Linked DNA regions of Homo sapiens. The protein of the gene in region 1 interacts with the protein of each later gene in a biochemical or structural test. Each region holds a gene or a part of one and is shown in the gene's direction. Other genes may lie near its edges. The genes, in order: PDZD8 and MAP2K2.

What was found.
Region 2: the proteins of PDZD8 (region 1) and MAP2K2 interact in a test that uses a peptide from one of them, tested with the Homo sapiens proteins (one large-scale study listed by IntAct).

Annotation. Positions count from the first base shown.
Region 1 is NC_000010.11:117,368,903-117,372,718, reverse strand, and holds part of PDZD8 (PDZ domain-containing protein 8), read left to right. Parts: intron 1-3,816. UniProt on the Homo sapiens protein: Molecular tethering protein that connects endoplasmic reticulum and mitochondria membranes. PDZD8-dependent endoplasmic reticulum-mitochondria membrane tethering is essential for endoplasmic reticulum-mitochondria Ca(2+) transfer.
Region 2 is NC_000019.10:4,117,621-4,121,436, reverse strand, and holds part of MAP2K2 (dual specificity mitogen-activated protein kinase kinase 2), read left to right. Parts: intron 1-3,807; coding exon 3,808-3,816. UniProt on the Homo sapiens protein: Catalyzes the concomitant phosphorylation of a threonine and a tyrosine residue in a Thr-Glu-Tyr sequence located in MAP kinases. Activates the ERK1 and ERK2 MAP kinases.

The DNA of each region.
Region 1 (3,816 bases):
ACTGTGTTCGATTTCTGGTTCTGTGAAGTAGAACATACTTTATGAAACCTACTTTTAACCTCTGGAATATCAGTGATTAAATTATAACTCGGTTCTAGTGTTTAAGCAGTGAGAGATGTTTATTTATAGCAGTGTGTTGCCAAAAAAGTCATGAGAAAAAGTTGCTAGAAATTTTGGTATTCTATCACAACTTCAATTATGATGTTTTCTGATAGCTTTCAGTTAATACAATTTGACTAGATTATTATTTTGAAATTTGTAGACTAGCCAATGACAGTGAGATTACATATCATTTTGAGATTTTTTTTTTAATGTAGACTTGGAATTTAGGTAAATCTGAAGTAAGTTATGAATAAGTTATGGAGGCATTGAGAAGTTTATTACTTTGAAAAACTATTATCTGTATCATTGAATAACAACCATTTAAAAGTATGGCAAAATTGCTTTTCACTTTGAAGGGATTTTTTTAAAAACAGCATGAATTTGGTTATGATATTTCAACTTCTAAATGTGAAGCATTAAATGATCATTTCCAGAAGTATGCACATCTGTGCTATTTATACTGGATGGCATCTCAATGCTCAGTCAGCTGCACAGAGCATATCACTCAATCTGTAAATGTTTATTGTACACCTGCTATATGCTTATCCTTGTTGTAGATGCTGGGATTTCAGTACTGAACAATACTTGAACTCAGCCCTCAGGAAGCTTAGAGTCTAGTGAGAATTGAATTAGCTATACTTAGTAATTTTTTTGTGTTTTTCGTTTGTTTGTTGAGACAGGATTTTGTTCGGTTGCCCAGAGCTGGAGTACAGTGTCAGGATCATGGCTCACGGCAGCTTCGACCTCCTGGGCTCAAGCAATCCTCCCATCTCAACCTTCCAAGTAGTTAGGACCACAGGTGTGTGCCACCACTCCTGGCTAATTAAAAAAAAATTTTTTTTGTAGAGATAGGTCTTGCTTTGTTGCCCAGGCTAGTCTGGAACTCCTGGGTTCATTCAAGTGATCCTCCCACCTCAGCCTCCCAAAGTGCTGGGATTACAGGTGTGAGCCACCTTGCCCGGCGCTTTGTAAGATTTAAACTAGAATGGGATTGATGGGGTTGAAGTAGCCAGGAAGCCGGTTTTAGCTTAGTAGAAGAAAATAGCAAGTATGACGATGAAAAGGGCTGCCTCAGCAAGTGATGACTTCTTGTCTGTGTAGCTGTTCTGTCCAGTGTTTTAAACTGGTGATGGGCCAGGTGCAGTGGTTCACGCCTGTGATCCCAGCACTTTGTAAGGCTGAGACAGGCGGATTACTTAAGGTCAGGAGTGTGAGACCAGCCTGGCCAACCTGATGAAACCCCGTCTCTAGTAAAAATGCAAAAATTAGCTGGGCGTGGTGGCGGGCGCCTGTAATCCCAGCTACTCTGGAGGCTGAGGCAGGAAAATGGCTTGTACCTGGGAGGCAGAGGTTGCAGCCAGCCGATATCGCACCACTGCACTCCAGCCTGGGCGACAGGGTGAGACTCCGTCTCCAAAATAAATAAGTAAATAAATAAATAAACAAACTGGTGATGATGTGGGACTGATTCAAGTTTCAGATAAGAATGAATTACAATACATCTAAGATATAGCATACTTCTCACAGGGAAAATTAAACTAGCTAGTGTTCATCTTTTTTTACAGATGAGGAAATGGAGCTCGGAGTAGTTAAATAACTTGCTTAAAGTCACACAGCTTTCAAGTGTTGAAACGCAGCTCTGATAAGGCCAGGCCACCTTTAAACACACACACACACACACACACACACACACACACAAACTATGTTGTTCTTAAGTGATTTATTTTTTAAAAGCATGCCATCGATATAGTAAATATGTGGGATATCTTTCCAAACTAACCTAGAACTCTTGAGAAGAGTATGACTATAAAGCTGATTTTTTTTTCTTAAATTGGTCATTTTAGAGGATCCTTTTAAAAGTAAATCATGAGGCTAAATCTTTGGGTACTGTCCCACGTGGCATTTCTTTTTTAATTGAGCAGAATTGTGTTTCCAAATAGAAGAGACAGGTTTCACCATGTTGGCCAGGCTGGTTTCGAACTCCTGACTTCAGGCAGTCTACCCACCTCGGCCTCCCAAAGTGCTGGGGTTACATGTGTGAGCCGCTGTGCCCGGCCTAGTTTATTCTTTTTTAGCTATCTAATCTTCTTAGTAGAGCTAAAGCAGTAAAGAGAATTGTATGGAGTCTTACGATCCTTTGGCATTTGTAATCATTACATAACAAATATCTTGCCAGTTAACGTTGTTATTACTTCTTTCCCCCTTCATTTATTTTGCCTTTTTCGTGTTGCTAAAGTGAATCAGCCTCTCTGGACTGCCAGTTCCTGATGTTTCACCTAGAGATGCTAAGTTGCTCAAGTGGTTGCTTTCTAAGGACCCAGCTGACTGACATTTCATTTTACCCAAGTTAACAAACTTACAATGTTTGTAAAACATTTTATTTTACAAAATGAATTATAATATGTAGACAATATGTTTACAGATTTATTCAAGTTAGGAATTTCATTCATCCACCTCAATGTTAATTGGTTTGATTTTTTAATTAAAATAGTATATTATAATAGCAATATATTTTTTTAAATGAACCTCAGAATCCATCCTCAAGGGAGAAAGATTACCACTAATGTTCTTTTACTACGTGGATAATTCATCTTAAACATGGAGTCTGAGTAATAGTGTCTGGGTGGGGAGCTCTGTTTAGGGTTTAGGAGTCAAATATTTGAGATTCTTACGGATGCTTGTGTTCCTGGAGTATTATTGTATATAGACAAGCAGATTCAGTTTGCAGGTACTTTTAATTTGGCCTGCACTGTTTAAAAAATGGAAAATTCTGTGTGTTTTGGATTTGTGGCTTCTGTTAGGAAAAATTGGAATATCTTGTAGCGCCAGTGCTGCATTTCTCAGAGCAACAACAGGATGGAGAGATGGACTGTAGTAGCAGCTTTGGGGTTGAAACTCGGTGTGTAAGCTCCTAGGTGGAGTTTATAGTCCCCCCTTATTTGCTGTGCTTAATTGATGGTACTTGCCTGGCTTGGAGTTATATGAATTTGAGACCCGTACTGGAGGAGTAAATAGGGAGCATTACTGTTGCTGATTAGTGAAAATGAGAAGACTTAATAGCTGGAGTGGAGAGGGAGAGTGATCATTTTTATCCTTCTTTTAATTACATTTTTGAAGGGACTGTCATAGAGCAATTTTATTTTTTAAAAGACATTGTTGGCCAGGTGCGGTGGCTCACTCCTGTAATCCCAGCACTTTGGGAGGGCAAGGCAGGCGGATCACTTGAGGTCAGGAGTTCGAGACCAGCCTGGTCAACATGGCGAAACCCCATCTTTACTAAAAATACAAAAATTAGCTGGGCATGGTGGCACATGCCTGTAATTCCAGTTACTCAGGAGGCTGAGGCAGGAGAATCGCTTGAACCCGAGAGGCAGAGATTGCTGCAAGCCGAGATCATACCACTGCACTCCAGCCTGGGCAACAGAGCAAGACTCTATCTCAAAAAGTAAAAATAAATAAATAAATAAATAAAAGACATTGTCAGGCCTGGCGTGGTGGCTGATGCCTGTAATCTCAGCACTTTGGGAGGCCAAGGTGGGTGGATCACTTGAGGTCAGGAGTTCGAGACCAGCCTGGCCAACATGGTGAAACCCCGCTTCTACTAAAAATGGCACGCACCTGCAGTCCCAGCTGCTGGGGATGCTGAGGCATGAGAATTGCTTGAACCCAGGAGGCGGAGGTTGCAGTGAGCCAAGATTGCGCCACTGTATTCCA
Region 2 (3,816 bases), on another chromosome or scaffold:
GGTGCCCAGTGTGTGGAGTCCCTGAAGCTGGAAGTGTGAGGAGACAGGGAAGCCAGAGTGTGAGGAACGAGGAGGCGTGGGGATCAGGGGACCCTGCTGGCCCCTGAAAGCAGAGGTGCAGATTCTGAAGTGAGTGGACCGGAAAACCCTTGTGAGGGGCTGACCCAGTGCAGAAGCTTTGAGGAGGTGGAGGGCGACCAGAGGCCTGGGTGAAGGGATCTGAGAAAGGGGTATGCTGGGGTCCGGGTGGCGTGCTGGCAGAATCGCACTGCTCCAGGACGAGGGAGGGGACTGGGTGTTGGGGGCACACACTGGTGGGGTCATGCCAGGGTGATCTCTGCACTCCCGTTCTGCAGGCCGAGGCAGGGCAGGGCGATCCCCGGGGCCCTTGGCTGGGGTCCGGGTGCCGTGCCTGCGGTGTGACCCCTCAAGAACCAGGTGTCAGGGACTGTGGCATGTCTGGTGGCCTCTCCCGCTTGGGGGTCGGCCTTCTGTGACCCAGATGAAGACTCTTGATGCCAATGTGTGCAAGTCAACACGGGCACAGCCAGACACGGGGACCCGTTCCTCATTCTCTGCACAGAACTCGCCCTTCACATTTCTCTTCCGTGTGGGGTTTGATTCCCATCTCTTGAAGGATTCCCCCAGGAGAGGAAGCTGGCTGTAGGGACGCCAAGGTTTTGTTTTGTTTTGTTTAATAACCACAGTTGGGTTGCCAGTAAATTTAAGATGGATTAGTCAGCTGACTCCAGAATGCATTTTCAATGTTTTGAGCAGTACTTGAGACCTTCCAAGTCTGCCATCAGAAGTGTTCATTCATGGCTGGGTGTGGTGGCTCACGCCTGTAATCCCAGCCCTTTGGGAGGCCAAGGTGGGTGGATTACTTGAGGCCCAGAGTTCAAGACCAACCTGGCCAACATGGCAAAACCCCGTCTCTATTAAAAATGCCAAAAAAATTAGCTGAGCGCGGTGATGCACACCTGTAATCCCAGCTACTCAGGAGGCTGAGGCAGGAGAATCGCTTGGACCCAGGAGGCAGAGGTTGCAGTGAGCTGAGATCGTGCCAGTGCACTCCAGCCTGGGCGACAGAGCAAGACTGTCTCAAAAAAAATAAATATTCATTTATTCATTGATGTTATTCATTCATTCATTCATGTTCCCCTCCTTACCTTCTGTCCCACTCCCAGGGTCTCGCCATTTCTGCTTCTTCTGGGTCCTTGTTCAGCAGCTCCTCAGTGAGCACCTACTAGGGCCCTGTTTCCCCTCATGGGGGACACTAAGATGAGCAGGGGTTGTCCTGACCTCAGGCAGGTGTTGTTACCTCGGGCAGGTTCCCCCACCCCTGTGAGTCTGTTCCCTCCTGCCTGGGCCTCCGGGGACGATGGTGAGAATGGAATGAGATGGTGTTTGTCCAGCCCAGGAAGCGGTGCCCAGGCCCCTGCCTTCCAGCGAGCTCTTTGCAGCACCAGCTCCAGCGCCATCGCCTCGGTTCTGGCCTGTGTGCCCCGTGGCTTACGCCACTTCCAGCTGTAGGCGAACAGTGGTCGAACTTTGGGATTGGAAATTTCCAGATGGAAGGAGCAGTCCACGCCTTCATTCCCTGCTTCAGTCCCCTCTCTGGCTGTCCACCTTGGCTTTAGCTCCTTCCTGAATTGGGACCTCTGGAGGTGGCCTGTTCTTCCAGAGAGCCATTTAAAGCTGCACTGCCTGGTTGAGTAGCCCCTGGCTACAGGCAACACATAAAACAAGAATTGCCCAAACCCACGAGAGCATAGGCGCAATAATGCCATTGTAGATTTCAAAGGCTTAAGACGGAAACAGTGTGAAACATTCATTCATTTTTCATACTGGTTGTACGTTGAAAATGATAACATTTTTGATGGGTTAAATCAAATGTGTTATTAAAATTAATTTCAGCCAGGTGCAGTGGCTTATGTCTGTAATCCCAGCACTTTGGGAGGCCAAGGTGGGCAGGTGGCTTGAACCCAGGAATTCAAGAGCAGCCTGACCAACATGGCGAAACCTTGTCTCTACTAAAAATACAAAAATTAGCTGGGCGTGGTGGCGGGTGCTTGTAATTCCAGCTACTTCGGAGGCTGAGGCAGGAGAATTGCTTGAACCCGTGAGGTGGAGGTTGCAGTGAGCCAAGATCACACCACTGTACTCCAGCCTGGGCGACAGAATGAGACTTTGTCTCAGAAAATAATAATAATAATAAAAATTAATTAATTAAAAAGAGCCAGACATGATGGCTCACACCTGTGATCCTAGCTACTAGGAAGGCTGAGGTGGGAGGATCACTTGAGGACAGGAGTTGGAGGCTGCAGTGAGCTGTAATCGTGCCGCTGCACCCCAGCTTGGGAGGTAGAGCAGGACCCTGTCTCTAAATAAATGAAGTGAGTTCACCTGTTCTTTTTAAACATGGGTACTAGAAGATTTTAATTTGTGCGCATGGTTTACATTCCATTGCTTGTGCACAGCAATGGGTTCCTGTGTGCATTGCGCTTAGTTGTCTGTTACTCCAGGATCTGGTTCTGAGTCAAGGCATTTGTGAAAATAGCTTACTGTCGAAATTTCCTCTGAAGATTCCTTGAATCACCCAATAAAGTGCAATGTACTTGCTTGTTTAAATTGTTAGAAATTTTTTATTGTGTAGAAACAAGGTCTTGCTCTGTCACCCAGGCTGGAGTACATTGTCACGATCATGGCTCACTGCAGTCTCGACCTCCTGGGCTCAGCCTCCTGAGTAACTAGAACTACAGGCATGAGCCACTGTGCTCGGCTATAGGTCTCACTTTGTTGCCCAGGCTGGTCATGCTTATTTTTTGTTTTTTTTGTTTTTTGGTTTGTTTTGTTTTGAGACAGAGCCTCCCTCTGCTGCCCAGGCTGGAGTGCAGTGGCAAGATCTCAGTTCACTGCAATCTCCCCCTCCCGGGTTCAAGCAGTTCTCGTGTCTCAGCCTCCCAAGTAGCTGGGACTGCAAACGTGCACCACCGTGCCTACCTGATGCAGCTTTTGTGCTGAGCCTTCTGCCCTCTACTCTTGGTTCTCATTCTGTGCTCTGAGGCTGCTCAGAACGCTTGTTCCTCTATCTCCTGCAAAGACAGACATCTTGGCCCGGGCTCCGTTCACCCGATCCCAGCTTCCTCGTCTCCTCCCGACATGGTCCGGAGCTCGTGCGTTAGGAAGGAGGTCTCCCGGCCGCGTGCAATGGCTCACGCCTATAATCCCAGCACTTTGAGAGGCTGAGGCAGGCGGATCACTCAATGTCAGGAGTTGGAGACCAGCCTGACCAACATGGCGAAACCCTGTCTCTACTGAAAATACAAAAATTAGCCGGGCATGGTGGCGGGAGCCTGTAATCTCAGCTACTTGGGAGGCTGAGGCAGGAGAATCTCTTGAACCCGGGAGGCCAAGGTTGCAGGGAGCCGAGATCGCGCCACTGCATTCCAGCCTGAGCAACAGAGGGAGACTCCGTCTCAAAAAAAAAAGAAAAAGAAAAGAAAAAGACGGAGGCTTCCTGGGTCCTTTGAGCTGCAGCTTATCCTTGAGGTCCTGAGGTCTGCTAGACTTGTTGAGACAGGATCAAGGCAGCGTCCTCAGTTCCCGGGGAGCCGCCCTGGATTCTGGTCATTGGTGTGTCTATGGGGGTACACAGCATGGATCCTTTCCTTCTACACCATGAACCCCTCAAGTGCAGGAATCCAGTCTGTGTCCTCCTGGGGGCCGATGCACCACGGCCACATAGCAAACGGCCAGATGGAGTCTCCCTAGGTAGCTAACCCCTACCCTGGGGGGTCTCTGCAGGGCAAACCT